Regions from separate parts of the Homo sapiens genome. Here region 1 is linked to region 2. A link means that fine-mapping ties the variant in region 2 to the expression of a gene that starts in the linked region. Tissue or cell type: whole blood. Region 2 holds a variant in brackets; the other region holds the start of a gene. All regions are shown on one strand. Distances are from middle to middle.

Region 1 (2,712 bases), 39 kb before region 2:
ACTTTGTCACTTACCCCTGTCATGGTCCTGGAATGAAGGCAAGAAAATAACCAACTTCCTAAGCTAAAGAAACCTCTACACGGACTGAGGGTTGAGAATTGGTTCTGAAAAAGCAGGCATTTAATATTAATAACTTGATCTATTTGTTCATCTAGGGAGCCCAAGGAGCACCCATGCTGCATTTATACATTTAATGACCGTACTAACAGCACAAGGTACTGAAGATAGTACTATGACCTCGACAAACTCCTCTCACACAGATTACAACCTGGTAGAAAAGAGAGACCGGCAGGCAGACACCCATGGGGTACCACGAAATCCCCAACTGACACCTGAAATAACACATAAAGGATAAGAAGGATTATTTCAACCAAAGGACAGTGCCTCAGACATAGCGAACATACTGAAGGAACATGTAAGCCCAGAAGGAACTTGTTCTGATCTAAGAACCAAAAAAGATTCAGTATGGTTGAAGACACAGTACAGTCGAGACAAATGAATCTAAAGTTAAAGGAAGACAGGTCATGAAGGGCTTTGCAAGCCCCGTTCAAGAGCTTGGAAGAGCAATGAGAATCCACCAAAGGGTGATAAGGGAATGGGGGGACGCTTCTGGTCACATGATCAGATTTCTGTTTTAAGACCATGGCTGTAGCCTCTCTGTATAGAACAAACTACAGAGGATGAAGAAGAGATGCAGGGATCATCAGGAAGACACCGAGGTAGTCCAGAGAAGAAAAGGTGGCCTGAACTAGGTAGGGCAGGGGGATGGGACTGGAGAATGAACGTATCCAAGACAACTTTGCAAGGGATTCGATGTGGGTGGGTAAAGGAGTGAAGCAAGTGAGAATGATGCCCAATTCTGGCTTGGGCACCCGGGTGGATGGCCATGCCCAGAGAGGGAATACAACAGGAGATCAGCTTCCCCCGCCGGGCCCGACAGGACCTGTGGTCTCCCCGAGAGAGGGAACAAGGAGCAGAGGGAGAGTAAGGCTTCCGGCCCGCTGCTTTTGGGCCGGGCCAGGAGCAGTGTCCACCCGACACAGCTGGTCCCACAGGCCGATCCTCGGGCCCCTAGGGACCAGGGAAGGGGGCGGAGATCTGCCCAGTCGGCCCCGTCTGGCTCCAGAGCCCCCGGTGGGGCACAGGCTTCCGCCCCGGGAGACAGGCCGTGCTCCTAGCCGGTTAAGCGTCCCGAGACGGCCTGGGGGCCCAGCCCGCGCCCCCAGACTACTCCTGCCTCTCATCTTGAGCCCAAGCCTCCAGCCCACAGGAGAGGCGCCGGGATCCCGCCCGCTGCGGAGAGTGCGCTAGTTCACTCACCCTTACGGTCTCCGAAGCAGACGCGAAGCCCTCCAACGTGAGCCTCACCAGCCCCCGTCCCCAAAACGCTCTTCCTCGGCTTCGCCCCGCCCCCCCCCCCCCCCCGACCTGCCCTGCGCACGCGCGCTCCCTGCCGCCCGCCCATTGGCGCCGCCGGGCCCCTCCCGCTGGCGGCGGCGGGCTGTGAGGACGGCTCGCGTGAGTCCACGTGTAATCGGCCCGGGCCCAGCACTGGCGGGACTGACGCAGTTCTTCTACCTGCTTTCCCAAGGGCGACACTCGGCTCCACTCCAGTTGGGCCGCTGGACGCCCTAGGGGCCCGGCAGTTGCTAGGCAACGCCGGAAGCCCTCAGGAACGTAGTTCCACGGGCGACGTAGGATGGCGGATCCGGATGGGGCGGACCCCAAAGCTGGCTCCCAACTCCGCTCACCCCCTCCTATACAGGGCTCTTGGTTCAGGTCTCTTGGTTCGTCCTGCTGCAAGTTGGGAAGAAAGATAATAGGAATGCTAATTCCTTCTTGATGAAACGACCACAACACGCTGGAGCCGGCCTTGGACCCTACGTTTCAAGATTGGCCTGCTTCCAGCGTCTGCCAGCTCCACTGCACAAGCTGCGGCAGCCGCTGTCCCCGTTCGCTTCCACGGGAGTCCCAGCAAGACTATGCGACCCAGTTCAAATACCATCTTCCATGTACCGTTCGTGAAATCAGCAGCTTTTGACATTCAAGAGAGGACAGATTACTTAAAAACAGACTCATGAACAAATAGGGAAACGAATACATCATCCCTGTATCGAATTCATCCCTGTATAATCCTGCCCTTACACCTGTGCTCCTATACAAGATTAACATTCAGTAAGTATCCATTGACCTGATGGATAAATGAGTGTAGGACGGTCGTTTTGTTTTTTTGTTTTGTTTTGTTTTGTTTTGAGACGGAGTCTCGCTCTGTCCCAGGCTGGAGTGCAGTGGTGGGATCTCGGCTCACTGCAACCTCCGCCTCCCAGGTTCAAGCTCTTCTCCTACCTCAGCCTCCCGAGTAGCTGGGATTACAGGCGCGTGCCACCTTGCCCGGCTAATTTTTGTATTTTTAGTAGAGACGGGGTTTCACCGTGTTGGCCAGGCTGGTCTCTAACTGCTGACCTCTTGATCCTCCCGCCTCAGCCTCCCAAAGTGCTGGGATTACAGGCGTGAGCCACCACTCCCGGCAGGACGGTCGTTTTTTTTAAAGCCCTTCTCCCATTTCTGTCCATAAAGGTACATAATCGTTTTTCAAATGAGCCTGGGTCCGGACAGGAAAGACAAAGAAAGTGGCTAAGTAGTTAGATGCCTTGAAAGTTGCCTAACGCCACTGCCATTGACGGTCTCATTCCTTTTCCCACCTTCATCTGA
Region 2 (2,500 bases):
GGCATGCACCACCACACCCAGCTAATTTTTAAATTTTTTTGTAGAGACAAAGTCTTGTCATATTGCTCAGGCTGGTCTTAAACTCCTGGGATCAAGCAGTCCTGTCACCTGTGCCTCCCAAAGTGCTAGGATTACAGGCGTGAGCCACCATGCCCGGCCATCATTTGTAGTATTTTCTATCTCACCCGCAAAGATCAGGTCACAGTTGGCGTGACCTTTCTTGGCAGCTGATGCAGTCTCAGGTGGATTCCTGTGCATCCAAGTAGCTCTGCTGGATGAGAAGGAGAGCTGGGAGAGGTGGGTCCTGAGGCCCCTCCTTGGGAAAGCTTGAAACCCTTTCCTCTTGGTTATCTCTCTAAGACCCCGTCCAGCTCAGTTGTGTGGAGATCAGTGAAAACAAGCCACTTGTCCTAAACTCTGTTCTGCTACTAGGTTGAGGCTTTGCACCATCGCATGCAGGCCTCCAAGGAACCTTCTGCAACGGTATTTACTATTAGCCCCATTTCTTTTTCTTTCTTTCTTTCTTTTTTTTTTTTTTCAATTTTTTGTAGAGACACAGTTCTTACTGTGTTTCTCAGGCTGGTCTCAGATTCTGGGTTTCAAGCGATCCTCTTGCCTTGGTCTCCCAAAGTGCTGGGATTACAGGTGTGAGCCACTGTGCCCTGCCAAGCTCCATCTCTTGAGACCCAAGAAAGGTGATCACAACCCAGGCCTTTAGTGTCTACAGCCCATGCTCTAATGCTGTCTCTCATTTCTTGGTACTGCCTCCCAGAGTACTGGGGTGGAAATAAAATAATGACTGGGAAAGTTGGATTCATGTGAAAGATGGTGATCACACCCCCACTTTTATAGTTCCCACGTTAGTCTGTGAAGTATTTCCTCATCCGTTCTTTCCTCATACCTGGATATCTCCATGAAGTCCTTTTTCCCCTTTTATTGACAGGGACAGTGAGGCACAAAAGGAGTAGGTGATGCGCTGATCCACACAGTAGAGGGGATTGTTCCTCTGGTAAAGCGACCTCCCCCGTGGCACCCTCCCACTGGGCAAGGGGTTCCGTTCCCTGACTGTTGTACTGATAGACCAAGAATATTTCACATTCAAATGCATGGGCCCCACAGAGTGCAGTGGACTCTTAATGTTGCCAAGTAAGGACATTAAGAAGCAAAAAATAGCAGCAAAATGATACCATCTTCTGCTCTTACTGTGCTATAACAGAAAAACAGTTTAGCATTGAAAGGGCAAGGTAGATATCCTTTCAGAACTAAGAGCCTTTTTTTTTTTTTTTTTTTTGAGACAACGGAGTCTCGCTCTGTCACCCAGGCTGGAGTACAGTGGCACGATCTTGGCTCACTGCAACCTCCGCCTCCCGGGTTCAAGCGATTCTTCTGCCTCAGCCTCCCAAGTAGCTAGGATTACAGGCGCCCACCACCACGCCCGGATAATTTTTGTATTTTTAGTAGAGACGGGTTTTACCATGTTGTCCAGGCTGGTCTCAAATTCCTGAT[C/T]TTAGGTGATCTGCCTGCCTCGACCTCCCAAAGTGCTGGGATTACAGGCGTGAGCCACCGTACCCGGCCGAGCATTTTTTTAAATAGTGTAAATGTGGCTTTATAAAACATGCCCTGCATTGTCTAATTTTTCCCCAGCTTGGTGGAAGCTCTGTTGTAAACTGCCACTGGTCCTCCAGGAACCGCCACTAGCCACACCCCATCAGCATGCCTGAAATGTCCTTCTCTGCCTCACTGCCCTTGTCTCCATGTGCAGGATAATGATAAATACGCATACCCTGTATTTATCTTGCTCTTTTCCAAAGAAAAGTTCAAAGCTCTTTTCTGGACTTTGCCCTATTAATGCCTTCAGCATCGCTGTGATAGGCAGTGAGGAGTAGGTGTTATTATCTCTCCCTCACCCACGAGGAAGACGCAGCCCGAGCAGGGAGGAAATGAGCCCGTGGCTTGAGACCAGTGCAGGGAACGCAGAGTCACTGCCCAGCTTGGAAGGACTGTGGGCCACATACCTCTGGGATGTGTCATCTGTGGCCCTGGCCCAGGGAGTGGATGGCCTATCTGGGAAGACTAGCAAATCCCCTCAAAAGATTCAGCTTTGGAGAGTTAATTAATAGAGAGAGCAGGTCAGGCGTGCAGAGGCTGAATGGGCCCATTGGTAGAGGCATTGGAGGAGTTCAGCTGAAGGGAGCTCCCTGGTAGTCAAGGAGGCTTTCAGGAGAAGGTGGGCCTGAGCAAGGCCCCAAAGGATAGAAGAGGACCTGGTTAGGCCAGGGGGAAGGGGACCTGAGGAAGCACAGGCAAAAGAGGAATGTGGATTTACAAAGGCCAGAAGGACCAGTTGGGAAGGTGAATTTGGCTTCCCCAGAGCCTGTCTGTGCCACGCTTCATTTCTCTTGGCTTCTGAGAGGGCAGTAGATGGTAAGGAGTGCTGGAGGCTTGCCCTGGGGTCACAGGGACCCCAGACTCTTACCTCCCTACAGGGAGACAGGGGTAG

The links. PIP is the estimated chance that this variant, and not a neighbour inherited with it, causes the effect.
Region 1: MCFD2 starts here. The variant in region 2 is fine-mapped to the expression of MCFD2 in whole blood (TOPMed, PIP above 0.99).

What each region holds. Positions count from the first base shown.
Region 1 is chr2:46,914,403-46,917,114 of GRCh38, forward strand. It overlaps MCFD2 (multiple coagulation factor deficiency 2, ER cargo receptor complex subunit), which reads right to left and starts at 1,404. Exons shown (of 4, transcript NM_139279.6): 1 at 1,321-1,404. It also overlaps a transcript of TTC7A not described here. RefSeq lists a silencer at 1,391-1,470 and an enhancer at 1,474-2,448.
Region 2 is chr2:46,953,296-46,955,795 of GRCh38, forward strand. All of the region lies in intron 2 of TTC7A (tetratricopeptide repeat domain 7A), which reads left to right. Among named protein-coding and RNA genes, the nearest start is that of TTC7A, 13 kb to the left of the region's middle. RefSeq lists a silencer at 1,835-2,129. The variant C/T (reference allele first, on the strand shown) is at 1,507.